2 linked regions of the Homo sapiens genome follow. The protein of the gene in region 1 purifies or fractionates together with the protein of each later gene. This does not show direct contact. Each region holds a gene or a part of one and is shown on either strand. Other genes may lie near its edges. The genes, in order: OSTM1 and TMTC4.

Region 1 (11,727 bases):
GGGGACAGCAAGTAGTCTCATGAAAATGTGGTTGGAATTATTCCATAAATTTAAACTTGTCTAAACTTGTTTATAGTTGCACTAAATATAAATTTGTACCTAGTTGGATCCTGCTTTAAGTCAGCCTGTTATTTAAAATAAATCTGTCATGGCTGTGTGCGGTGGCTCATGCCTGTAATCCCAGCACTTTGGGAGGCTGAGGCAGGGGGATCACCTGAGGTCAGGAGTTGGAGACTAGCGTGGCCAACATGGTGAAACCCCCGTCTCTACTAAAAATACAAAAATTATCCGGGCGTGGTGGCACGTGCCTGTAGTCCCAGCTGCTCTGGAAGCTGAGGCAGAAGAATTGCGGTACACGTCTGTAGTTCCAGCTACTCGGGAAGCTGAGGCAGAAGAATCACTTGAGCCTGGAAGGCCAAGGTTGGGGTGAGCCAAGATTGCACTACTGCACTCCTTCCTGGGCAACAGAGTGAGACTCCATCTCACAATAAATAAATAAATAAAAATAAAATAAAAATCTGTCATTTTACATAACTGGGGAATTTATTTGCATTAAATAAATTCTGTGGTCAATCTCTCTGTAAAGAGCATGTTTTTTTTTTTTTCTTTTTTCTTTTTTTTCTGAGACAAGGTCTTGCTCTGTTGCCCAGGCTGGATGGAGTTCAGTGGTGTCATCTCGGCTCACTGCAATCTCCGCCTCCTGGGTTCAAGTGATTCTCCTGCCTCAGCTTCCTGAGTAGCTGGAACTACAGATGTGCACTGCCACACCTAACTAATTATTGTATTTTTAGTAGAGACAGGTTTCACCATGTTGACCAGGCTGTTCTCGAACTCCTGGCCTCAAGTAATCCACCCACCTCAGCCTCCCAAAGATTTGGGATTACAGGTGTGAGCCACCACACCTGGCCAAGGACATATTTTCGAGGTAAATAAATTCAGGCTTACATGCGGTATTTTCCAGGCACACTTCCATTGGGTATAGCAAGGAATATATATCTTACTATCACTTTAAAATAAAGTACCCAAGACATGTCCCTGTCAACTACAGCAGGATACGATATAGCATCATATTCAGTGTTGAGTGGTTAAGATGAGTTGTTTTAGGGTTCCATTTACTCTAAAGAACAAGGGCTATTGTGGGCAGAATGGCCAGGGATCATGATGCAAAGTTTGGGTCTTTGAAGGCAGCAAATGCTTTTCTCATGTGTGTAGGTACTGTGGAATTAAAGAGAGGCTAAAAATAGCACCTCAAACTCTAGGGTGCAGTATTATGGGCATCACCCAATCTGCATGTGAATTTCCATATGAATTCCCCACTACCCAAAGGAGGCTTCCCAGTGGGGGAGTTGTAGAAACCCCCTTCCTTTCCCTCAGATTCTACCAGCAACCTGGGTACCCAGCTCAACTCACCCTGATGTGAAAGGAAGTGGATAAACAGGTGAAAAGAGGCAGGGAAACTTTTTTTGTATTTTCTCTCCAACTCATCCTAGGCCTTGGTCTCGGCTCGCCTTATTTCCCCAGTAGAGCTGGATATGATTCATTAGCTCAAAAGTGTGACATCTACAGTTCTGAGGTACTTTATAGATTTAAAAGGCTATATGGACTGGTTTGGGAGTTGAACCATCATGTATAATAATGAACTTATGAGGCCAGGTGTGGTGGCTCGTGTCTGTAATCCCAGCACTTTGGGAGGCCAAGGCAGGCAGATCACCTGAGGCCAGGAGTTCGAGACCAGCCTGGCCAACATGGTGAAACCCTGCCTCTACTAAAAATACAAAAAAAAAAAAAAAAAAAAAAAATTAGCCGGGTGTGGTGGTGCGCAGCTACTCAGGAGGCTGAGGCAGGAGAATTGCTTGAACCCGGGAGGTGGAGGTTGCAGTGAGCCAAGATAGTGCCACCACTCTCCAACCTGGGGGACAGAGTAAGACTCCGTTGCAAAAAAAAACCAAAACAAAACAAAACAAAAACCTATGGAAAAATGTGTCATGAGTGAACTTGAAGGAATTAGTTGTCTCTTGGGGAGGTTTATTTATCCAGTGTAGTATATTTTCTTTTCTTTTTCTTTTTTTTTTGAGACAGAGTCTTGCTCTGTTGCCCAGGCTGGAGTGCAGTGGCATAATCTCAGCTCACTGCAAGCTCCACCTCCCAGGTTCATGCCATTCTCCTGCCTTAGCCTCCCAAGCAGCTGGGACTACAGGCGCCCGCCACCACGCCCGGCTGATTTTTTATATTTTTAGTAAAGACGGGGTTTCACCGTGTTAGCCAGGATGGTCTCAATCTCCTGACCTCGTGATCTGCACACCTCGACCTCCCAAAGTGCTGGGATTACAGGTGTGAGCCACCACACCCAGCCCTTTTTTTTTTTTTTTGAGACGGAGTTTCCCTCTTGTTACCCAGGCTGGAGTGCAATGGCGGGATCTCGGCTCACTGCAACCTTCGCCTCCCAGGTTCAAGCGATTCTCCTGCCTCAGCCTCCCAAGTAGCTGGGATTACAGGCGCCCACCACCACGCCTGGCTAATTTTTGTATTTTTAGTAGAGACAGGGTTTCACTATGTTGGCCAGGCTGGTCTCAAACTCCTGACCTCAGGTGGTCCACCCGGCTCGGCCTCCCAGAGTGCTGGGATTACAGGCGTGAGCCACCACGCCCAGCCTATCCAGTGTAATGTATTTTGTTTGACTCAGACTCAGTCTTTTATTGAAATCAGTTTTTAGCAAGCACCTACTATTCTTGAATATTGGGCTGGTAAAAGGATAAGAAGGAAAAGAAGGGTAAGATTCAGGCCTCAAACTATCAGTATAGTTAGGGGAAATAAAATACCTTATATGGGGAAATAGGAAAATATCAGTGAGTGTTATAAATTGTACCATAGCAATTTAGAACAAAAGAGTGAAAGGAATGCCAAGTTAAAGGAGGGAACAGAGCCAGATGCAGTGGCTCATGCCTGTAATCCCAGCACTTTGGGAAGCCGAGGCAGGTGGATCGCTTGAGGCCAGGAGTTTGAGACCAGCCTAGCCAACATGGCAAAACCCCGTCTCTACTAAAAATATAAAAAATTAGCCAGGAGTAGTGGCATGTGCCTGTAATCCCAGCTACTCAGGAGGCTGAGGTGGGAGAATCACTTGAGCCTGGGAGGCTGAGGTTTCAGTGAACCAAGTTTGCACCACTGCACTCCAGCCTGGGTGACAGAGCAAGACTCCATCTCAAAAAAAGAAAAAAAAAATGACGGAACAGAGCAAGGCTGGTTCATCAGGGGAAACCTACAAGCTGAATCTCAAGGCATTCTTTCTACCCTTCTTTAGTGTGAATGGACATGGATTGATTGAGAGAGGAGAGGAGTATAATAAGGAGAAAAAAAGAATCAAAGCCAGAAACTAGTAAGCTATTTATGTGGTACAGCAATATAATTAGTTTAACTATAATAGAATTCCCTGATAAGAATCCTAGGTTCTTGTCACTTCCTTTTAGAATTTCTGGGAGAGGGATCGCATATAGTTTCATTATCTCAAGGTGAAAAATACAGTGATTTCTGAAACCTGAATGATAGAACTGAGGGATTCCCTCTTCCTTAGAGTCATACTTTCTCCTTTTAGTTTAAACTGATAGGGACATAGTTTCATTGTGATTCAGCATTATCGGAATGGTCCTGAGGATGCTTTTGCCCCCTCAGATTCTGAATTGGTAGGCTCTGTCCTATTCTACTTGGTTTGTTTAAAATTTAGATAGTGTTTAAAATTTAGATCTATAGATCCATCCATCTACCTATCTATCTCTATCTATCTATGTATCTGTGTATCTTTGTGAAGTGCTAGTCATTTGGGTTATGTATTTGGTGAGTATTCAATATACTTTTACTGTAGATTATTAAATAATGAATTCTGAGGACTATAGGGAGAAAGCCAGAACATAGTGTAATAATCTGTGTCTTTCATTAGAGATCAGAAAATGTAATATTTCTTCTGCATTCATTCAAAAAAATTATTGAGTACCTATTATGTACAGGTTGTGGTAGCTACTAGGGATATAGCATGAATGAGCAGAGCTTGTAGTCTGAAGACAGACATTAAGCATCTCATTATACAAATAATTATTTAATTCATGTGTGATAAGTGTTGCTGATTAAAAAACCCAGATGCTACCAATGCATATGACAAGAGTGCTGATCTTGAGTATGACTGGGGGGTAGGTAGAATGGTCAGTGATTAAAGCAGACACCTACAATTTGAGAGAACACAGGCAGGGGAGGGAAGGTATACATGTAAAGAAATAGCAGGCATGAAGACTGAGATGGGAAGGAGTTTGTGGTGTATCTGAGGTCTAGAACACAGCACAGTGAGCAAGAAGGAAACCCGTGGTCTGAGCCTAAGGAAGTACACAGGTGCCAGGTCATGTGGGCCTTGTAGGGTATGTTAAGGATTTTAGACTTTGATTTTAAAGCAGTATGACGTTAGTGAAAGGTTTAATTCTGTGGAATGACATAATCAGATTTGTACTTTAAAAGGCTATGCTGGCTATGTGACAGAAAATGGAGAGGGTAGGGGCTGGGGAGGGTAGGGGAAGAAGATATGTGGGGAGATGAATTAGGAGACTGTTGCAGTGGTGTGAGAGACAGTGGTGTCTAGGCTATGTGGGGGCCATCATGATGTGGAGAAATGGGTGGATTTCAGAGATACTTAGGAGGCAGAAATTACAGGCTTGGAGGTTAATTGAATGTGGGGAGTAAGGAAAAGGTAGTGATGATTTCCAGGGTTTTAATAAGAGCAGCTTAATGAATAGGGTTGTCATTTACTGAGCTGGAGGGAGGAGTCTGTTTAGTGGGCGAAGATCATTAACTCAGTTTTGAACGTGTTGATTTTGAGGTGTTTATGAGCTTTCTAAGTGGATATATTGATTGCCTATGTGGTTGAATATACACATCTAGAGGACTGGACTAGAGATAACACCTTTGGGAGTGTCGGCATAAAAATGGCATTTGAAATTATGACATGGGTGAACATACCTGAAGAATGAGTAGGAACACTAAGAGTTTAAGATTAAATAGAGGGTAAACTCTCAAAGGTGACTGAGAAGGAAGAATTGGAGAGATAAAGAAGAATGAGGAGAGCATGATGCCCTGTAAATCAAGGAAAAGGGAAGGGGTGGTTATTTGTGTCAAATCCTGCTGAGAGAATTGGAGATATATCTGTCAACACTGGCAGTATTGGTGACACTAACAAGAGTGAATTTGATGGAGTCCTTGGGTACGAAAGTGAGATCAGAGTGGGTTGAACAGGGATTGGAAGATGAGGACATGGGAAGAGTGAACCTAGACAACTGCTGAAGAGTTTGGCCTTGATGGGGAGATAAGAAAGAGAAGTCACTAAAGAGCAATGTGGGACTCAGAGACTTTCTTTCATTTCTCTTTCTCTATTTTTTTTTTTTTTTTTTTTTTTAGACAGAGGCTCGCTCTGTCAACCAAGCTGGAGTGCATGGCACAATCTCGGCTCACTGCAACCTCCACCATCCCAGGTTCAAGCGATTCTCCAGCCTCAGCCTCCTGAGTAGCTGGGACTATGGGTGTGCACCACCACACCCAGCTAATTTTATACTTTTAGTAGAGATGGGGTTTCACCAGGTTGGCTGGACTGGTCTCGAACTCCTGACCTTAGGTGATCTGCCTGCCTCGGCCTCCCAAAGTATTGGGATACAGGCGTGAGCCACGGTGCCAGGCTGACTTTCTATCATTTCTTTCCATTCCCCTGTCCCTCCATTCCTCTGTCCTGCCTTCCCTTCTTCCTTGTCCAAGATGGGAGAGAGCTGGACATGTTTAAATGTTGATAGTAAGGGTCCTTTAGAGAAAGTGAAGATTCTGTAGGAGGGAGTGGGAAGCAGACAAGGTCAGTTTCCAGAAAAGGCAGGATAGATGGGATCTAGGGCATCCTCAGAGAGATGGGCCTTGAAAAGGACAGGTGCCTTCCCCACCTTAATGGGAGGGTAGAAGGAGAGGTTGCATGTAGGGGTAGGCAGGTTAGAGTTTCAGCTCGAAGGCTTCTGTTATCCAGGAGGCTAGATCTTCTTTTGAGAGTAAAGAGTGGGAGAGAGATCAGAGTTTCTGGGAGAGTGGAGAGGATTTGAAATAGCGGTTGTAAAAAGGAGAGAATGAGCAGACAGAAAAGTGAGGAGTACGGTTTGGGATTATGGATTTACTTTGGAATTAATCTGTGTTGTTAATTTTTTGCCAGCAGCTCCTGACTTCCTGGGTGCAGGCATGATCAAAGGAAATGGCTGGCTTCAAGATGGTTAGGGTTCTGCTAAGTAGTTAGGATAGATTTGAGTATTAAGAGTTCTAAGTATAAGCAAGGACCATTGATTTTTTGGTCACTTGGCGAGGTGTTGGGAATACAAAGATGTGACAGTTTCCATTTTAAAGGGACATCTGTCCAGAAGAGAAACCTAAACATATATAGGTGGATATCATGCTTTAAGAAACCATGCATCAGGGTAATGACGCATGGGTCCCACATTGCTCTTTAGTGACCTCTCTTTCTTATCTCCCCATCAAGGCCAAACTCTTCAGCAGTTGTCTAGGTTCACTCTTCCCATGTCCTCATCTTCCATTCCCTGTTCAACCCACTCTGATCTCACTTTCACACTCAAGGACTCCATCAAATTCATTCTTGTTAGTGTCACCAATACTGCCAGTGTTGACAGATGTACCTCCAGTTCTCTCAGCAGGATTTGACACAAATAACCACCCCTTCCCTTTTCCTTGATTTACAGGACATCATGCTCTCCTTATTTTTCTTTATCTCTCCAATTCTTCCTTCTCAGTCACCTCTGATAGTTTACCCTCTACCCAGCTAACACTACCTATTTCATAGAGTTGTTATGAGGATTAAATAAGGAAGTTGGAACATTTGGAACTGGTAAGTAGTAAGTACCTCATCATCGTTTGGATTATTAATCATTTCCTTTCTGTCCTCACTGTTGCCATCATCCTTTCATTATACCTGATCTATGGAAGTAGTGTAATGAGTCTCCCTGCCTCCTCACCCTACATATCACGGCCTAAAGATGTATTCCTCAAACTGCTTTTCATGACACCCTCCTCATAAATCTTAAAGAATTTCTCACTGGCTAACTCTCATGACCCTCACGGCCTCTCATAACCTTGTTCTAACTTAGCCCTTTAATAGCCCTACTTTCATAGACTACTGAATACTCTCCGAATACCACATAATCATTATCACTTTCACCCCATGATCATTTAATTCTTCTATTTTCGAATCCTCTTCTCTTCCTCAATATAGGGCTTAGTTCATATCCTGCTTCCTTCATGAACTCTTTCCTAATTTCTCAAAACTACATTGATATCTTCCTGAACCGAACTGTTCCACACATTGAACACTCATACAGGCTCTACTGTATTGATTTTTAAAATAGCCAGTCACCCACTTATGAAGATTCAACTTAACCAACTAATGACACTTATCCAACTAAACCTACTTAGAGCACTTCAGGTTGGCAGCATGGTAGCTAGGTGAAATAGCATATATCAGTCACTGTGTGCCAGACAGTGTGCTGAGTGATTAATGTATGCTATTTCATTTAATACAGTAACTGTAGGACCCCTGATTTTGAAACTGAACCTTAGCGAGGTTGGGTCAGCTGCCCAAGGTCACTAGCTAGTGACCCAGGCTTGTATTAATACAATATTATTACTTCTACTTAAGAAGTGATAATAGGCCAGGCATGGTGGCTCATGCCTGTAATCCCAGCACTTTGGGAGGCCGAGGCAGGTGGATCGTCTGAGGTCAGGAGTTCGAGACCAGTCAGGCCAACATGGTGAAACCCCGTCTGTACTAAAAATAAAAATTAGCCAAGCATGGTGGCATGTGCCTGTAGTCCCAGCTGCTCGGGCGGCTAAGGCAGGAGGATCGCTTGAACCCAGGAGGCAGATGTTGCAGTGAGCTGAGATTGCGTCACTGCACTCCAGCCTGGGCGATAGAGTGAGACTCCATCTCAAAAAAAAAAAAAAAAAAGTGATAATAGAAAATTTTCTTCTATGGCTGGTATTGCTCAGAAGGTAATTCTAAAAAAGAGTTTTAAAATGTTCTGTTCATGGCCAGGTGCAGTGGCTCATGCCTATAATCCCAGCACTTTGGGAGGCCGAGGTGGATGGATCATTTGAGTTCAGGAGTTCAAGATCAGCCTGGCCAACATAGTGAAACCCCGTCTCTACTACAAACACAAAAATTAGCTGGGTGTGGTGGCATGTGCCTGTAGTCCCAGCTACCTGGGAGGCTGTGGCATGAGAATCGCTTGGATTTTATATTTTAAAGCAGAAATTCTTCCTTTTCTCCCTCTTTTCTCCTTTTTTCCATTTCTTCTCCCACATGACTGACCATTTGTTTCCCAGGAGTTACCACTCTTTTATTATTCATCACACTGTATAACTCCTTGTCTGTGTAACTGCGAGAGGTTCTCAAAGCCCCAGAATTGATGGCATTCTTTTATACTTTTTATATCCTCAGAACTTCAGGATTTTTATAGTGCCTAGTAAATAGTAGGAGTTAAATAACTTTGAAAGAATTAAGGGTCAGCAGGACTTAGTTCCTTGCTTGGGGCACGAAGGAAAGGAAATAGATAAGGATCAAATGATTTGGGAACTTGGATTTATTATTTGCATAGCATGAGTTTCTTTCATTATTAAAATGATCTACAAAAGCATATTTTTCCATCTGGGTACAAACTATTTAGATAACAAAGATTTTCTTCCTTTGCAAGTGAACCTAGTACCAATAAATGTTAGCTGCTAATTACTTTATTATCATTGTTTTTATTAATGTTAACATCTGATCATATCAAACAAAATGTTAAAAAGCTTATAATAAATGTTATTTTTGTAAGGTTTTTGCCTCAAGTTGTTTGCAAAGTCTGAAAATACTCAGATTGTATTTTTCTGTCTTCTTTTTGTTACAGAATACTTCAGAGAGTCAGAGTTGTGCCAGAAGTCTCTTAATGGCAGATAGAATGCAAATAGTTGTGATTCTCTCAGAATTTTTTAATACCACATGGCAGGAGGCAAATTGTGCAAGTAAGTAATTCTTTCATTTTCATGTTGCAGTTATGGTTCAGTAGTACAGATGTCAGATTTTATTTTAGTGAATTTTGGGATCTTTGAAGCTGGATAATACTTTTTATTGCTAAGTTTAAATAAACTGTCATGGACACCATGGTTTATTAATGGCAACTGAGCAAATAGCGAAAGGCAGAAAAGTGTAGCAGTTACTATGAGCTTTGGATTTAGATAGACTTGGGTTTGATTCTAAGCTCTGCCACTTACTAGCCCTAACCTACTAGCTGTCAGATATGGGAGAAAAACTTTGCCTCTTGGAAGTTCAGTTTCTTCATCTGTAAATTGGTGGTAATGATAGAACCTATCTTATATAGTCGCCTTGAGAATGAAATGAAATAAATTGTGTAAAGCACTTAGCTCAATGCCTGACACGTATTTAGTGTTCAAGAAATGTTAACTGTTTAGTATAATAATAATTATGATGTTTACAGTAATCTGTCAAGTGGTGTGTGGCAGGCGGCGGGGTGGGATGATGACATCTGTTCTACCTTCTTTGCAGGTTTGTGTGTAATTGTGTAATAAAATAAGATCTATTTTTAGATATTCTTTGGAAAAATTAAAATCACTTCCAATTCAGATGATGTTTTGAATACCAACTATGTGCTAGGCAGTTCTTATTTTTCAAGTCTTATAATTTAATGAGTGAGAAAGATATATTTACAAATACAGCCTAGGACAGACACATAAATGCTTTAATAAAGTTATAGAGTCCTTGGAGGAAGAAGAAAATAAATCTTACTGGGGAGAATTTGAAATGACTTCCTGGAGGAGCTACCTTTTGAACCTAGGCCTGTACTATTGGACATGATTTCAATAAGTAGAGATGACGCCAGTGAGGCGGCTCACGCCTGTAATCCCAGCACTTTGGGAAGCCAAGGCAGAATTGCTTGAGCCCAGGAGTTTGAGACCAGCCTGGGGAACATAGTGAGACCCCCATCTCTACAAAAATATATATTTTTTAAATTAGATGGACATGGTGGTGTGTGACTGTAGTCCTAGCCACTTGGGAGGCTAAGGCAGGAGGATCCCTTCAGCCCAGGAATTCAAGGATGCAGTGAGATATGATTGTGCCACTGCATTCCAGCCTGGGCAACAGAGCAAGACCCTGTCTTAAAAAAAAAAAAAAGTAGAAATGAGAGAAGGACATTGCAGGTAGTCACAGAGGTATAAAAGGGCAACAGATGTTCCAGGAAGCATAGTGGGAGGTAAAGTTAGCAAGGGAAAGTAGGACCTTGACTGACAGAGTAGTATACTATTTGGGCCAACATTTTTTATACTGCTTAGAATATCAGCATATTATTAAGAAGGGGTTATAGACCAGGCATGGTGGCTCACACCTGTAATCCCAGCACTTTGGGAGGCCAAGGTGGGAGAATTGTTTGAGCCTAGGAGTTCAAGACCAGCTTAGGCAACATGGCAAAACTTTGTCTCAACAAAAAATAAAAAATTAACTGGACTTGGTGGCATGTGCCTGTAGTCCCAGCAACTTGGGAGGCTGAGATGGGAGGTCAAGGCTGCAATGAATCATGGTTGTGCCACTGCTCCCCGCTCTGGGCAACAGAACGAGACCCTATCTACAACAACAATAACAAAAAAAAAAAAAAAAAGAAAAGAAAAGCTTATATAGTATTCTCCTATTATGATTATATAGTATTCTATTAGCCATGGTTTCACTTGCTGTAGTTTCAGTTACTGCAGTCAACTGCAGTCCAAAAATATTAAATGGAAAATTTCAGAAGTAAACCATTTATAATCTTAAATTGTGTATGATTCTGAGTAGCATAATGAAATCCCATGCCATCCTGCTTCATCTACTTGGGCTGCGAATCATCCATTTGTGCAGCATATCTATACTGTAGATGCTGCCCCTCCTGTGAGGCACTCAGGAGCATCTTGGTTATAAGGTCAACTGTCATGGTATGGCACTACTTGTGTTCAGGTAACCCTTAGTTTACTTACTAATTCTTTAATAATAGTAACATAATTATTAGTTTTTGTTTTTAATCTCTTACTGTGCCTAATTTATAAATTAAACTTTATCATGGGTATGATATAGAAAACAGAAAAAACCATAGTATATAGAAGGTTTGGTACTATACTAGAAAAAAAAACATAGAAATAGAAAAAAACGTAGTATATAGAAGGTTTGGTACTATACTTGGTTTCAAGCATCCATTGGGAGTCTTGGAATATATCCCTTGAAGATAAGAGTTGACTACTGTATGTTGTAGTATCTTTGGGATTTACAATGCACCTGGAATATTAAATGCATTGAGATTTTTTTAAAAGGGTTTTTTTTTGGCTCAGTGGGGAGGCTCACACCTGTAATCCCAGCACTTCAGGAGGACAAGATGGTAGTATTGCTTGAGCCCAGGAGTTCAAGACCAGCCTGGGCAACATTTTTTGTAGAGACAGAGTCTCTACAAAGAAAAGAAAAGAAAAGAAAAAAATTAGCTGGGCATGGTGGCAAATGCCTATAGTCCCAGCTGCCTGGGAGGCTGAGGTAAGAGGAGTGCTTGAGCCCAGGAGTTGGAGGCCACATTGAGCTATGACTGTGCCACTGCACTCCAGCCTAGGCAACAGAGCAAGACCCTGTCTTAAAGAAAAAGG
Region 2 (16,698 bases), on another chromosome or scaffold:
CTTCTCACATCAGGGTCCTTGCCAGTCCCGTGAAAGGGCTCCCTAACCCTGTGGCTGGGTTAAGGCTAAATATAACCTTCTTGGTGGTATCTTTAGAAGACTAGTGGTGTCAAGACTATTCTTTTAGATTTGCCTTTTTTCTAAAGGCAAGGGTATCAAGCCACAGATTCTTAGCTGTGCATTTCATAGAGACCAAAATCAAGAGAACAGCCATCGAAGCCTGTTATGTTATTGGGTGTATAGGTGACCCTGGGTCCTCAGATTTAGAGGTCACAGGCTTCAGGCAGCAAATAGATCATAGCTTTGCCAGAAATATAACGAATGTATTGCATAGTCTGATGGCTTTGCCATATTTTTATATACCAAAATCTGAATACATTTAATACATTTTTACAGACTATAGTCACATACCCAATACACGTTGGCAACATTTTATTTGATACAACTGCTTTCATTGAGCAGAAGCATATGAGTGCCTCCAAAGTGAAGTTAGTGCGTATATATGTGTTTTTTAAGTTCAGTATCAAATAGATGTTTGTTCTCCTTTTGACTGGCAGGCCGTAAACTACAATTACTACTATTCATTGAATGCCTGGCTGCTGCTGTGTCCCTGGTGGCTGTGTTTTGATTGGTCAATGGGCTGCATCCCCCTCATTAAGTCCATCAGCGACTGGAGGGTAATTGCACTTGCAGCACTCTGGTTCTGCCTAATTGGCCTGATATGCCAAGCCCTGTGCTCTGAAGACGGCCACAAGAGAAGGTAAGAGGCAGCACTGAATCTTAAGTTCCACGCTGGTTGAGTCAGAAGCGTTTTGTGAAATCCTGCGCTGATCATTTTTATGATTTTGTGGAAGTCACGTCTAAGGACATTTGTTTCAAATGCATATTTATGGCTAGGATGAGTTCCATCCATTTGGAATCCATGGCTGGCTTCCGCGGGTGGGGAGCGAGGCTGGAAGAGGAGCTACGGATGACTGCTTCATCCCTCCCTTCCCCTTTCCCTAGGAAGTAGCATTTTGCGATCCTTTTCACCATAGGTGGTAAAGAGTAATTTACGGTCAGAACAGAGAGTGTAATTGATGTGTGTTGTGCCCATTATTGCACAATTCTTCCTCAAAACACCCTGGTGAACGCTGCCATGATTCCCTCTGTTGTAGCTGGGTACAAAATAAGCCATTGCCCCAAAGAGACTGTTCTTTCTTGATGGAAAAAAAAGTTATTGAGAAAATAATTGGGGAAAACAAATGTGTTTCATGAAAAAGAAAACTGTTTAAGGTGATTTCCTTTAAGCCTAAGTGTTTATGGAATTAGATTAGTAATGTCTCAAAATAAATTAAGTTTTAAGTTTACCTGTGTGTTGAATTGGTTAGTAATTCTAAGGAGCCACAAACTTTAGTCCCAGTTCCCTTATCCACAGAAAATGGGATTTTTATAGAAATACTGTAGCCACAGGGCCCAAGAAGGAGCCACCAAAATTGACCTAGAGTCTTAATTCATCCTCTTGCATCATAGGGGACATTGGGAATGATCAGGTGGTTCCAGAAGTGTTTCAATGCTCAGCTTCGTATCTCCCTGACTGAAATTTATGGTGGTGATGTAGCAACCAAAAAATGGTATTTGTTTATTTCAAATTTCATAAACTTTAAACTTACTTAAGTGTTATTATTCTCATTACATTTTGGAGGAATTTTTTTTTCCCCGTGAAAACTGATTGGGACAGTTTTTGAATTAATTGAGACCAACAATATCCACTGAACTGTTCAGTACCTAAATGGTTTGAGGCATAGTGAGGAGTAGGTGAATTAATAAGGCCTCAGAAATGCGATCATGCTAATTTTCTCCATACGAATTGTATGGCTTTTGAGTTTTACCCTTAGACTCGCTGTGAAGTGCCAGAGGAATATTTTTGTGCCTTATCCACATGCTACCAAGCTAAACTGTCTCTACTGATGATATCCTTTGGCTGACAACAATATCTTTTCTCAGTTGATGCCATGGAAAAGAAAAGGTCTTTAGCATTAATTTAATGTGGAGTAGGATGTTTTTCTTGAGAAGTCTGGAAATAGCCATTTATTTAAATACTTTTCATCATCCAGGATCCTTACTCTGGGCCTGGGATTTCTCGTTATCCCATTTCTCCCCGCGAGTAACCTGTTCTTCCGAGTGGGCTTCGTGGTCGCAGAGCGTGTCCTCTACCTCCCCAGCGTTGGGTACTGTGTGCTGCTGACTTTTGGATTCGGAGCCCTGAGCAAACATACCAAGAAAAAGGTATCAACTGAGAGTGGTGCCAGCTGATGAACAGAATGACCGGATGCATCTCACTGGTGACAATTACCATGTCTTTCTGTTCTTAAGAAACTCATTGCCGCTGTCGTGCTGGGAATCTTATTCATCAACACGCTGAGATGTGTGCTGCGCAGCGGCGAGTGGCGGAGTGAGGAACAGCTTTTCAGAAGTGCTCTGTCTGTGTGTCCCCTCAATGCTAAGGTACCTAGCTGCCAGATTTCTTTTAAAGGGACCTTACTAGGGTATCTGTTAAGTTCTTGGGCTGAATAAGAACATTTCCTGTCGCGCAGTATTTAGTGTAAGACCATGACCGAATACTTGGGTTTTTCTTTGTTATGTATGGTTTTTTTTAATGATTTTGATAAGATTCATTAAAATTCCACTCAGCCAAAATTGAAAAGAAGTCATTTAAAAGCAGACAGTATCAATGAAACAGATGACTCTAATGAGGTCTTAATCATCTTCCAGATGATCTACTCACCCTTTGAAGTAGCTTCAGGGGAGGTGACATTGCGTATTCAGACTGAGGGTGGGCACGGCACAGATTCTGATGTCTAGAGCACACTTTTCAAAACCCACTCTCTAGTGATAGCATTAACTAGCCTCCTCCAAGCTGGAATTTAAAGGGGTAGTAATGCCTACAAATTGGCAATAATGTAGTTCAGGAAGTTTATGCTATGTGCTGCACAATAGTACACATTTATGTCACCTTTGGGTGCCCTGCTAGTGATTTTTTGGGGGTCAGATTAGGTAAACATAAATGTACATACAGTCATGTGCCATGTAACAGTGTTTCAGTCAGCAAACCGCATATTGCATATATATGACCATGGTCCCATAAAATTATACCTTTTTTTTTTTTTTTTGAGACTGGGTCTTTCTCTTGTCACCCAGGCTGGAGTGCAGTGGTGCGATCTCGGCTCACTGCAGCCTCCACCTCCCGGGTTCAAGGGATTCTCCGGCCTCAGCCTCCTGAGTAGCTAGATTACAGGCGCTTGCTACCACACCCAGCTAATTTTTGTATTTTTAGTAGAGACAGAGTTTCACCATGTTGGCCAAGCTGATCTTGAACTCCTGACCTCAAGTGATCCGTCTGCTTCAGCCTCCCAGATGCTGGGATTACAGGCGTGAGCCACTGCACCCGACCAATATTTTTACTGCCTCTTTTCTATGTTTAGATACACAAATCCTTACCATTGTGTTACCATTGCCTCCAGCATTCAGTACAGTCACACGCTACACAGGTTTCTGGCCTAGGAGCAGCGGGCTAGACCACACATAGCCTAGGTGTATAGTAGGCTTTACCATCTAGGGTTGTGTAAGTACACTCTTATGATGTTCAAACAATGACAAAATCAGCTAACAATGCATTTCTCAGAATGTATCCTTGTTGTCATCAAGTAATGCATGACTGTACTCTAAAATTGGCAGTGTTTTTGTTTGAAGCAATCTGGTAGGAATTTTTTCACTTGTATTCTTGATGAATCCAAGCTCTTCACTTGACTAGCTGTGCCTCTTTGGGCAAAACTACACTTTTTAAAACTTGCAGTGCCCTTTTCTATCAGAAGTGGATAATACCTATCTGCTGGATTTGTTGTTAGGGCTGAATGAACTAAAATGCCCTCACACGGTGGCCAGCAGTAGGTGCTCAGAAAGTGTTAGCTTTTTTTTTTTTTTTTTTTTTTTTTTTTTTCCCTGAGATGGAGTCTTGCTCTGTTGCCCAGGCTGGAGTGCAGTGGCCTGATCTCGGCTCACTGCAACCTCCGCCTCCCAGGTTCAAGCGATTCTCCTGCCTCAGCCTCCCGAGTAGCTAGGACAGGCATGCGCCACTATGCCCGGCTAATTTTTGTATTTTTAGTAGAGACGGGGTTTCACTATGTTAGCCAGGCTGGTCTCGAACTCCTGACCTCGTGATTCGCCCATCCTCAGCCTCCCAAAGTGCTGGGATTACAGGCATGAGCCTCCGCGCCCAGCCAAGTGTTAGCTTTTGTAGGTTCATTTCAGTTTGGGTTTTGCATTATGTTGGGAAGAGAACGCTATTTGCTCAAAATGGGGGCCAAGGGGTTAGGTTAGAAGAATTTTCTTTTAGTATAGATTATTATCATGAAATAATGATCATTCTCTCTTAGGTCCTCAGCATAAGAGCTGCCTAGATTGCTTAAATGTAATCCTCCTGGGTGGAGACGGGGAGCTCTCTGGATCTGTTTCATGTCTATGTTCCATATTTAAGGGAAAGCAGTGATTTCAGACAAAATTATATAAACAAAACTAATGAATAGTTGACATCTTATTATGAAACTTAAGTAAAGAATAATATATAAGAGATGCTGGCTACTTATCTTTTTCTTGGATTAAAACCTGTCATTCATATTTTAGTTAAGAGACTTAGATAAAATAGTGAATTACTTTCAGCTTTTATCTTTAGTTTGATTTGTTGACTTATCAATTTATTTTATGCTACCAAAAATAAATTGCCTGTGATTTAATTTCTTAAACGTTAATAGATCTGCTTTATTTTTCCTTTACTGTTTGAATCGCAGTAATTGCCCCTTCTATGTGTGGAGTTCCTCACCACAAGGAGTTCAGATTTCTTTACAGAGGCTCTATAATTCATCTCTATTATCCTCTCACTCAGCTTTTTAGAGAGACAGCGTATTATTTTCTCTGTTTTCCCAGATGGGAGAAACTGAAGCATAGCAAGATTAAACTGACATTATCTAGGTTAGTAATGTAGGTGGCTACAGAGAGACCTGGTATGGTGATGTGCCCAGGTGCCTCTAGTAAATAAGGGGGATGGAACATAGGTGATGTCTGAACCCAAAAATCTGCCCGGGAAGTGATTTCATATGTTACAGGCTAGAAAACACAGGGCGTGTGCTTGTGGGAATGCACGTAAGTATTAGGAGAAAGACAGAGAGAGAGAGAGAGAGAGAGAGAGAGAGAGAGAGAGAGTGTGTGTGTGTGTGTGTGTGTGTGTGTGTGTGTGTGTGGTTTCCTCTTAATTTAAGGAATACATATAAGACCTCATCTTCAAAATGGACCCAGTGGTAATAGTCCTTTCTCAAGAACATTTTTCAATGATTCTATTCAATATAAGCAAGATTGAGATTTTTGGGAGTTTCTTTTTAAATTGAAGTGTCATAAAATTATCTTTACTTCCTTTTTTTTGAAAAAATGTAAGTTAATTTTAGGAAAGTAATCTCACTTAGGAAGACACTGGTTTCCTTCAGTCCCATTATTTCAGGGGACACATTTTCTATACTGGTTTCATTTGATATCTATTGAATATAAAGTAAGAAATTGGCAACTGGCTCTAATTTAGGGCCAGATGTGTGAGCTAAGACTCATCTTTTTTGAGAGATTGCAATGTCAGTGTAGGTAGTGCTGGTCCCTGGTCTGCATGTCAAGGCACAGTGCCTTGCATATGGTAGACAATCAATATTAGTTATTGAATTCAGCCAAAGGGAAGTTGAATTCACTGAGACTACTGTGGATGAGATACCAAGTATACTTATAATCATTTTTAGTTTTTAAGGCTTAAAAGTATGTCACACCATCAACTCTGTGATACAATTCTATAATAAATTCTTTTAACAATGAAACAGATCATATGCCACAATGAGGTATTTTCTTAAGGAGTAAGTGACCCAGGATGCTATAGGATTTTTATGTTTTCAAAACATTTTAAGTTTAACATTAGATGTTGCCAGAATATTTATAACAAATTAGTTTAGCCCTGGTATTAAAGGTGCCTTTCATAACTGATACTCTCACTTTCTTGCATTTACATGTTACTGGGTTGTAATGTTTGTTTTATCTTCGACTTCTGTGCTAGTTCATTGCCTCAGCATGTGCATCACAAATGCTAGGGGGAAAGTTGAAGAATAAACAAGCTTTTCAATCATTTATATTTCAGGGAAACAAAAGTCAGTCATTCTCTAAACACTATTTTAAGTGACCTGGTTGTGAGATTTTTGTTCTGTTTTGTTTTGTTTTGCAATCTAGGCAGCTATTTTTTATTCAAAGAATTCCCTCCACCTAACCCATAGGATAAAGCTGGCCTCTAGGGAAACCTGTTTACCAATTCTTAATGATGGCCTGCCTTCTAAGGCTGTATCAGATTTTTAACTAGTTCCTGTTCCAGAGTCCCACGTCCTTCTCCTTTGATCTTCTGGTCTCTGGCATTCTGAGTGTCTAACAGAACACTGTCTATACTGCAGAGGGCGGTTGAACTCTTTGTCTGGGCTTTTTATTGAGAAAACAGAATTTGCCTGGAACAAAGGAAAACAGCAGGAGCTTGGGGCGGAAGAGGCGGGCGTCGTGTTGATGTCTGAGTAGAAGCTGTATTTGTATTCTGAGGACTACAAGGACATCACTGACAGATTGGATTCTCCGGCCCTAGGTTGTTTTGTGCATACGAGAGGAGGTGAAGTCACATGTCCAAGCTGGGTTGGGGGAAGCTCAAATTCTAATCATTTAGAGCACTTTTCTCAACACACACTTCAGCGATAGCATTAACTGAGCCTCCTCCAAGCTACAATTTGAGGACAAAAATACCTATGAATGGACAATAATTTGATGCAGAAAGCTTAAATTCTACTGTGTGGTGCATGGTAGTACACACATTTTTATCACCTGCAATTTCTCTGCTTGTGAGTCCTTTCATCAGAGTGGGTAAACATAAATCTATATGCTTTTAAATTGGCAGTTAAGAAAACCTGTTAATATGCACTGCTGCATATTCTTCCAGAAATCTAAGTATGTTTGACGAAGTGCTGTAACTGTAGGTTAAGATGGATAAGGCAGGATGTGGTTGTGTTTTCAGGGGTCATTTGGAAGCAGTGTTCAGACATAATGTTATTTGAATGTGTTTAAACCACTTCTGTATTTCAAGATTTTATTAGTTTTCTCAGGCTGCTATAAACACACACACACACATACACACACACACACACACACACACACACACACACACACATACACACAGATTGGGTGGCTTAGACCACAGTTAATTTTCTCACTGTTGTAAATGCTGGAATTGTCACATCAGGGTGTCAGCAGGGTTGGTTTCTTGTGAGGCCTCTCTCCTTAGCTTGCAGACGGCACCTTCCCCCTGTGTCCTCACGTGGTGTGTCTTCTGTGCACACATATCTCTGGTGTCTGTGTCCATATTTCCTCTTTCTGTAAGGACGCCATTCATACTGGACTGGGGTCATATGGATGGGGGCCCAACCATATGACCTCATTTGACCTTACTTACCTCTTTAAAGACCCTATCTCCAAATACATTTTCATTCTGGGGTGCTGAGGGTTTAATGTAAACTTTGGGGGACAATAACATATAAAAAGAAATGTGATTTTACTTAGGAAAAAGGCCAGTGGTATGAATGAGTGGATCTAGAAAGTGCCTCGAGCAGTCACCCTCATCTTCCCCCAGCACTGTAATCAATGTGTATTATCTAGTGGGAAGAAACACAGGCTTCAGAGCCTGGTTCTAATCCAACTTCACAGCCCTAGATGAGACGCTGAATGGCCCCGAAGCAGTTTATCAACTCAGAAGAGAGGGTCACAGCAGCCACGGCCTCGAGCCACCGTGAGGAAAGACCGCGATCACACAGCACGCAACACCGCTCCCAGCTGGTGGGTGCCACTCAAGGTGTGCCAGCTACACACCATCTTACCATTCACCGTGACTGTTGTTAGCAGCACCCACACTTCATGCTTCTGATTGAGTGAGTTTCTGTAGCATCGTCTCCTCTGGGCTTGCTACTCACTTTGTATTGTAAAGTCCCGAAAGGAGCTTTTGATCATCAACAAATACTTTTCTTTTTCTTTCACTTTTTCTTTTTCTTTTTGTGAGACAGAGTCTTGCTCTGTCGCCCTGGCTGAAGTGCAGTGGCATGCTCTTGCCTCACTGCAGCCTCCAACTCCTGGGTTCAAGCGATTCTCCTGTCTCACCCTCCCAAGTAGCTGAGATTACAGGCGTGCACTACCACACCCAGCTAATTTTTGTATTTTTAGTAGAGATGGGGTTTCACCATGTTGGACACGCTGGTCTCGAACTCCTGACCTCAGGTGATCTACCCATTTTGGCCTCCTGCAGTACTAGGATTACAGGCATGAGGCACTGCGCCCGGCCAACAAATTCTTTTTATTGTAGTCTTCGTGAGCTTGTGTAGTCTGGCTGCCTTAGGCTTAGTTCAAGTCCCCACTTTTTTCTTTGTCATTTATTCTAAGCCCATGTTTAGTTGAGAAACTACCAGACGTTGGCTTCCCTGATGCCCTCGTTCCAAGGTGACCTGAGAATTCCTAGTAGATTGGCAGCTGGGAGCCCCATTCTATCCAGCCTACTTCACCCCCTCTTCAGTCATTGAAAATCCTTTCCTCATTCTCTCTTTTTTTTAAATGGAGGTAAAATTCCTATAACATAAAACTATCCATGTTAGTACCTCAAAAAATTAAAAACAGAATTCTGTGATCCAACAATTCAATTTCCAGGCAAATATCCAAAAGGACCGAAAGCAGAGACTCAGAGAGATTTGTACACCCATGTTCACAGCAGCGTTATTCACAATAGCTAAAAAGTAGAAGCTACCCAGGTGTCCATCCAGGGACAAATGGACAAACAGAATGTGGTGTACTCATGCAAGGGAATATTATTCAGCCACAAAAGGAAGGAAATTCTGACACATGTGACACAAATGGACAAATCCTGTACAATTCCACTTACATGAGGCACGTGGGAGTCAAATGCATAGAGACGGAAAATGAATGGAGGTTGCCAGGGTCTGGTGGAGGTGAGAATGGGTACAGAGTTTCAGATTTGCAAAATGAAAGAACTCTGGAGATGGATGGTGACCATGGACTTCCACGTCAGCCTATCCTGTACCCCTAAACAAGGCTGGTCACCCATCACATCTCTTGAAAGTCATCACACCCATTCTGTCCTGAATGTTGGGAACCTACCACTTGTTCTTGACACTCTTCCCTCTCTCCTATCAGTTGGTCACCAATTTGTATGCTTTTTGCTTCCTCACTGTTCTTCAAACCCCTCCACAGATTCACCACCACCCTAGTTCAGTCTGCTGACCTCTCTCCTAGGACTGCAGCCACAGCCTCCCTGGAGCCCCTGACACCTGCTTCTCCCCCACTCACATCTCTTTCCCACCACGGGATTTGTTTCATATGAACATAAACATGGTGGTGACCTCTGCCACCCTCCCACCCCTGGCTTCCTGCTGTGGGTTTAATTGTGCCTCCCAAAAGCTACGCTCAAATCGTAACCCCTGGGACCTAGAAGTATAATGTATAACCTTTTTTTGGAAATAGGGTTGTTGCAGATGTAATTAAGATGTCAGTTAAGATGAGGTCATACAAGAGGATGGTGGGCCCTTAATCCAGTGTGACTGGTGTCCTTTTAAGACAGGAGAAGAGACAGGGAGACAGACAAGAGGTGAGATGGTCATGAAGACAGAGGCAGAGGTGGGAGCGAGGCATCTGCAAGCCGGAAATTATGGGCAAGCACCGTGAGACAGGAGAGAGGCAGGGAGCAGTCTCTTCCCTCAGCCGGTGATGGGACCAGCCCTGCCCACACCGTGATCTCAGCCTCCAGGACTGTGAGAGAAGTGTGTTGTGTTAAGCCCCTCAGTTTGTGGTGCTTTATTGCTGCAACCCTGGGGCACTCACACACTTACAGACCCCGCCCCGCGCCGGCCTCGTGGCTCTGAGGACAACGACTGATCCTAGCCTGCCCTTGCTCAGGGTTCCCTGCGAGCGCAGCTGCTCCTCCCGGGCTCTCCAACCTGCATCCCTGCTCTCTGTGCTCCAGCCACACCGAGGCCCTTGCTCAGACCCTGTGAGAATAATACCAGAGACAGGGTGCCAGACACTCATTTCTCACAGTGCCAGAGGCTGGAAAGCCCACCATCAAGGTGCAGGCAGGTTGGGTGTGTGGTAAGGGCCTGCCTCCTGGTTCACAGACGGTCGTCTTCTCACTGTGTCCTCACGTGGCGGAAAGGGGGCATGGGAGCTCTCCAGGGCCTTTTTGATGAAGGCACTGATCCATTCATGGGCCTCCACCCTCATGACCCAATCACTTCCCAGAGGCCCTACTTCCCAATACCATCACATTAGGAGTCAGGATTTCAACATCTGAATTTTGAGAGTCCATAAACATTCTGCTTATTACAGATACAGAGTAAAATGCTTGTGATGCTAGCTATAGAAGAAAGGTGCCATCCAAGAAAGGGCCATATTTGCTTAAATGGGTGGACAGAATCATGCTTTCTTCTACTCATGTCCACATGTGACTAGACTTTGTTATCTCAACTCTAGTGGAGTGTGTAGGTGAGGGGAATTTGAGGTTTTGATGATAAAAACAAGCCAGGTGTGGTGGTGTATGCCTGTAGTCCCAGCTACTTGAGAGGCTGAGGCAAGAGAATCACTGAATCCCAGGGGTTCAAGGCTGCAGCACGCTATGATGGCACCTGTGAATAGCTACTGCACTCCAGCCTGGGCAACATAGCAAGACCCCATCTCTAAAAATCAAAAGTAAAATTTTAAAAAGCCCAGCTTTGTAGTTTTCTGGTTGTCTCTGGTGAGGTCTTTAGTTATTTCCCTTCTGTTGTGCTTTAGAGATGTATCATGCCTATACCCCCTTTCTTCTGATCCTCTTACAGGGTTGGAGATTAAAGCACAAGCAACTCCTAACCCCTGTAGGGTTTTAGCTAAAGTTCTGGTGGGTGATTTTTTTTCCTCGTCGCTTTACCTTTTGTCTTCAGTTAGAAGATGTGATGGGGTCCAGGCTCTGAACAAGAAGTCTGTCTGCTGATGGCCCAATTATTCTCTGTCTGCAGGTTCACTACAACATTGGCAAAAACCTGGCTGATAAAGGCAACCAGACAGCTGCCATCAGATACTACCGGGAAGCTGTAAGGTATGGCGAGTATGTCTTACAGAAGAATTATGTACACAGATCGTTTTCACTTTCTAATATGAAACACCTGTTCCTTTAAAGACCCCAACTTTACAATATCTTTACCGATTCCTGAGAGTTTAGTAAAAACTTACTATTGAGCATTTAATGGTCAGCTTGGTTTTTTCTCAACTTTCAGATTAAATCCCAAGTATGTTCATGCCATGAATAATCTTGGAAATATCTTAAAAGAAAGGAATGAGCTACAGGAAGCTGAGGAGCTGCTGTCTTTGGCTGTTCAAATACAGTAAGCATTGTTTTTATAATTATGCTAGTGACAAAGAAAGGAGCTCCTGCATTCCGGCATCTAAGCCTTTCATCTTCTTGTTTATCTTTGTTAAAACTGCTCCTCTAGGCCAGACTTTGCCGCTGCGTGGATGAATCTAGGCATAGTGCAGAATAGCCTGAAACGGTTTGAAGCAGCAGAGCAAAGTTACCGGACAGCAATTAAACACAGAAGGAAATACCCAGACTGTTACTACAACCTCGGGCGTCTGGTAAGCGCGGGGTGCCCTGTGCCTGTGGAAGGAAAGATGGGTTATTTTTCTTATTTATAATAAAATGACATAGTGACACCCACCTAGCCCATACATTTTATAAAGTTCTTTCACATGTTTCTATCTCATTTGAAGGTAGCTATTTGATTTCCTTTTGAGTAATTTTTTAAAGCTCTCATTAGAGAGCAGTACAGTGTGAATTAGTCAAGTTTAAGAGGTCACCCACGCAAAAGGTTAAACCCAGGAATAAATTAACATGTTAAAGTCCCGTCCGCCCTGTAAAACAGCACTCCAATGGGTAACTTCCTGATAAACATCAGTTTCTCTGTTTTTAAAACAAGAATTGAGTAAGAACAGAGATTAAAGTAACAAATCCGTAGTATGATTTCTGAGCTCCCTTGTTCTCCTTCTTCAAGGGAGCAGAGCTCTTCATCTGCAGGGAGCATTTCCCCCAAAAAAGGCAGCTTTGGAGGGCACGGGATTTATTTGAAAGGGCTTTGACATTATTTGGTGGAAATAGAAAATAACGTGTTCTGTAGTAGCTTTATATTTTTGGTTATTGACAGGATGTTTACGAAGATCTGATTGCTCTTGATTTTCTTGACAAAAATAAAATGAGACACACACATAGCAAAATTCTTTAAACACGAATGGTTGTCTTCTCCCTATAATCAACCATTTAATTTGGTTTCAAGAAAACAAATACATATGTTCCTAATATATTTAGATGTATTCAATAAACATTGTTAATTAAAAAATTTGTGTTCATTCTAACCAAACTGGAATACATCCATAGTGATATGACTTTCACAGAAGTTTATATGTAGATTTCCAGATTTTATCCAGCTTAGCCTTACAGGTAGGAAGGCATCCTCGTGTTCTAAAGAGATGTCTGCTGCCCTCGTTTTAAAGGCCTGAAGCTTCTTGGTTTTGTTTTTTGTTTGTTTGTTTGTTTGTTTGTTTTGTTTTGTTTTTGGAGACAGAGTTTCGCTTTAAAGAGTTCTTATGTTGTCAGAACTGGTAGTTCCCTTAGCTGCTTGTCGATGGCTTTCAAGGTTACTTCATGGAGCTGGAGCGCTTGGCTGCGCAGGCCCTGAGGGCTGGCGGTCCCAATGGCATGGCCACGGTGCGTGCCATGGCTTCTGGAGGTGGTGTCTCTTTCTTTTTTTATTTTTTTTTTATTTTTTTTTTTTGAGACAGAGTCTCACTCTGTCACCCAAGCTGGAGTGCAGTGGCGGGATCTCGGCTCAACGGGATCTCGGCTCACTGCAAGCTCCGCCCCCCGGGTTCACGCCGTTCTTCTGCCTCAGCCTCCGGAGTAGCTGGGACTATAGGCGCCCGCCACCATGCCTGGCTAATGTTTTGTATTTTTAGTAGAGACGGGATTTCACCATGTTAGCCAGGATGGTCTAGATCTCCTGACCTCGTGATCCGCCCGCCTCAGCCTCCGAAAGTGCTGGGATTACAGGCATGAGCCACCATGCCCAGCCTGGAGGTGGTGTTTCTATTGATAACAAGTAGGTGACTGGCCTAGAGATGGAGGTCATGATGACTGCAAGGAAGAGACTGGACCCATACAATGTACTACCCCCAAAGACAGCTTTAGGCACCAAGGAAGACCCTAATTTAGTCCCCTCCATCACCAACAAGAGAATAGTGGGTGCATCTGTGAAGAGGAAAACAGTGCTGTCATCTGGTTTTGGCCGCACAAAGGCAAGACCCAGCAATGCCCCAGCTGTGGAGCCCATTACAAGCTGGTACCCATCAGCTGGTGCATTGAGCGCCTGCACCAAGTTACTCAAAATGTGCTATAAAGTTTCATCTTTCCAATAAAGACCAGCCATTGCATTGGCTCCTTCTCCTTCTGCAAAAAAAAAAAAAAAAAAAAACAAAACCCAACTAGTAGTTTCCAAAACTGACATGCATCCAGACCGTCCCACCCCATCTGACATTTAGGGAATCAAGGGCTCTATAGAGAATCTGTTTTAAAATAACAATAATAAACTGGGCACAGTGGCTTATACCTGTAATCCCGGCACTTTGGGAGGCCAAGGCGGGCGGATCACTTGAGGTCAGGAGTTCAAGACCAGCCTGGCCAACATGGCGAAACCACATCTCTACTAAAAATACAAAAAATAGCCAGACATGGTGGTACGTGCCTGTAATCCCAGCTGCTGGGGAGGCTGAGGCAGGAAAATCACTTGAACCTGGGAAGCAGAGGTTGCAGTGAGCCAAGATTGCGGCACTGCACTCCAGCCTGGGCAACAGAGTGAGATTCTGCCTCAAAAAAATTAAGTAAGTAAAATAACAATAATGAATCACCCAGGTGATTCCAGTAACCTGCCCTTGGCCCTGCAGCAGGGAAGCAGCTCTGTCTGAACTTGGATAACAGGGTAATCATGTCAGAGCAGAAGCCATGGTTTGTGGGGAACAATCCTAGAAAACACTGACTGCTTTACATTTATTGGAAAACCAGGCTTTGGTTTTTACCATAATGTGAATGTCTTTGGTCTTACTGTCTTTGTTTCTGGAGTGGGTAGCCATGATTTTGTGAGTTGTGGAGATAGAATCTTATGAATGGAGAAAACAAGATAGCAGGAACGTCTGGCTAACTAATGGTAAAATGTGACCTTCCCCCTCTGCAGAAGTCCCTTTACGTGGACGAGTAATGCTTGTGTTAGAAATATATACATATGTAACTAACCTGCACATTGTGCACATGTACGCTAAAACTTAAAGTATAATAATAATAAATTTAAAAAAAAAGAAATACTAAAGTGAAGTGGTTGCATGTATGAGTCCATTTTCATAATGCTGATAAAGATATACCTGACACTGGGTAATTTATAGAGAAAAAGAGGTTTAATGGACTCACAGTTCCATGTGGCTGGGGAGGCCTCACAATCAAGGTGGAAGGTGAAAGGCACATCTTACATGGCAGCAGACAAAAGAAAATAAGAGCCAAGCAAAAGAGGTTTCCCCTTATAAAACCATCAGATCTCATGAGACTTAGTCACTACCACGAGAACAGTATGGGGGAAACCACCCCCATGATTCAGTTATTTTTCACCAGGTCCCTCCCACAACACATGGGAATGATGGGAGCTACAATTCAAGATGAGATTTGGGTGGGGACACAGCCAAACCATATCACCGCATTTTTATTACTCAAAAAATGCAAAACATGTTTCAGTTATGATATGCCACAGGAAGATACCACCTCTATGTGCTGACTCCACTGTGGAAAGGAGGAATTATTTCTTCGTGGGCACAGAGGCAAGGGTGGCAGGAATGTGGCTGAACTCATGGAATGGCATGATGCTTGAACAAGGAAGATTAATGGCAAGATATTCCTTTGTCTCACATTAACTTTCTCCAGAACCACTGACCTTGCGTGCATTTTTGTTCTTTTACATTTTAAAATTCTGTGCTTTATGACCTAGTTACCTGCTTTGATGTTGAAACCAGTTTCTCTGTGAGACCTGAAGATTCCAGGAGAGCTGAAATTATTATAATGATCGGCTGTTTGTTCCCAGGGGGAAGGGGAGGCTGTGAAACCTCAACATAATGTTACGAGTGGTGACTTCAAAATTCAATCACATACAAAGCAGGGGCGATCCTCACAAAGTTAGTGAAGTGAGAATAGGGGTGGGGTGGAGGATGGGAGCACATGAGGTCTTACCTGAATTCATGCATTTGGGTGGTTATGAATATATGGGTGTAGGGATTACCGTTTCTGTTCACTGTATCTGTTAAACTAGTACTCAGTGACTAAATATGAGACTTGGTATTCATAAGAATTCTTCTTTTGGTTGGGCGCGGTGGCTCACGCCTGTAATCCCAGCACTTTGGAAGGCCGAGGCGAGTGGATCACAAGGTCAGGAGATCGAGACCATCCTGGCTAACATGGTGAAACCCCATCTCTACTAAAAATGCAAAAAATTAGCCAGGCGTGGTGGCAGGCGCCTATAGTCCCAGCTACTCAGGAGGCTGAGGCAGGAGAATGGCGTGAACCCGGGAGGCGGAGCTTGCAGTGAACCGAGATGGCGCCACTGCACTCCAGCCTGGGCGACGGAGCAAGACTCCATCTCAAAAAATAAAAATAAAAAAAAAGAATTCTTCTTTCATCCCTTTTTTTCCTTTTCTGGGGATTGCTCTTCTGTTACTTTATTGCTCACAAAGTGAGTGGGTCTGCCCACAGCCTCCCAGGTTATCCTCTAGGCTCCACAGCTTAGTCTTCTCCCCTCTCCTAGTAGCTGCCCGTCACTGCAGTTCCTTGGGATTTGGAAAATAGAGGATTTATAATAAATGCTCCTTCTGTAAGAATGATGTCCAAAGGGAGGAACGGAGAATATAAAGTACCAGCTTTTATCATGTGCTGTAGTCCTTGGGATTCATTACACTTTCACTTGGAAGATCATCTGTAGCATTGAACACATTGAGACCTTGTACTGCTTTTGGTTTATATTGTTTACTAATTACACTGCCGTGAAATGGTCTTCCTGTATTCCATTCCGCCAACTGTTCCTGCTTATTTAAGGCTTTTGCTTTCCCTTGTGGTTTAATTATCCAGCTTTTTCCTCTTTGACAGCTTAAAAGCATTAAGAGCTTAATCTTTAACAACTCAACCAACCCATTTATATACTGGCAAATAAGAACTTAATAGCTTAAGAGGGTTTTTTGTTTGTTTGTTTGTTTGTTTGTTTTAAGAAATCACTCTCTAGTAACAGGAGACAGCGATTTGTTTTGATTTCTAGACCCCAATATGGAGAGAATATAAGGCAGTTCTCTTGTGGAATAGGAAGTCAGGAAGAGCGCAATTACTGGGACATATTACTAATCTTAGAAAGTTATATTCTAAGCAATAATGGCTAGAGGGATTGCGGAAGACAATGCATGATGGAAGGACTGGATGTGTCCAGGAAAACAGAAACCATTCTA

What was found.
Region 2: the proteins of OSTM1 (region 1) and TMTC4 purify together in Homo sapiens (co-immunoprecipitation; 2 studies listed by BioGRID and IntAct, with this or other methods). This does not show direct contact.

What each region holds. Positions count from the first base shown.
Region 1 is NC_000006.12:108,061,533-108,073,259, reverse strand, and holds part of OSTM1 (osteopetrosis-associated transmembrane protein 1 precursor), read left to right. Parts: intron 1-8,960; coding exon 8,961-9,075; intron 9,076-11,727. UniProt on the Homo sapiens protein: Required for osteoclast and melanocyte maturation and function.
Region 2 is NC_000013.11:100,620,594-100,637,291, reverse strand, and holds part of TMTC4 (protein O-mannosyl-transferase TMTC4), read left to right. Parts: intron 1-557; coding exon 558-760; intron 761-2,096; coding exon 2,097-2,268; intron 2,269-2,355; coding exon 2,356-2,487; intron 2,488-11,141; coding exon 11,142-11,221; intron 11,222-11,399; coding exon 11,400-11,507; intron 11,508-11,615; coding exon 11,616-11,757; intron 11,758-12,786; exon of another isoform or gene 12,787-12,905; intron 12,906-13,252; exon of another isoform or gene 13,253-13,619; intron 13,620-16,698. UniProt on the Homo sapiens protein: Transfers mannosyl residues to the hydroxyl group of serine or threonine residues.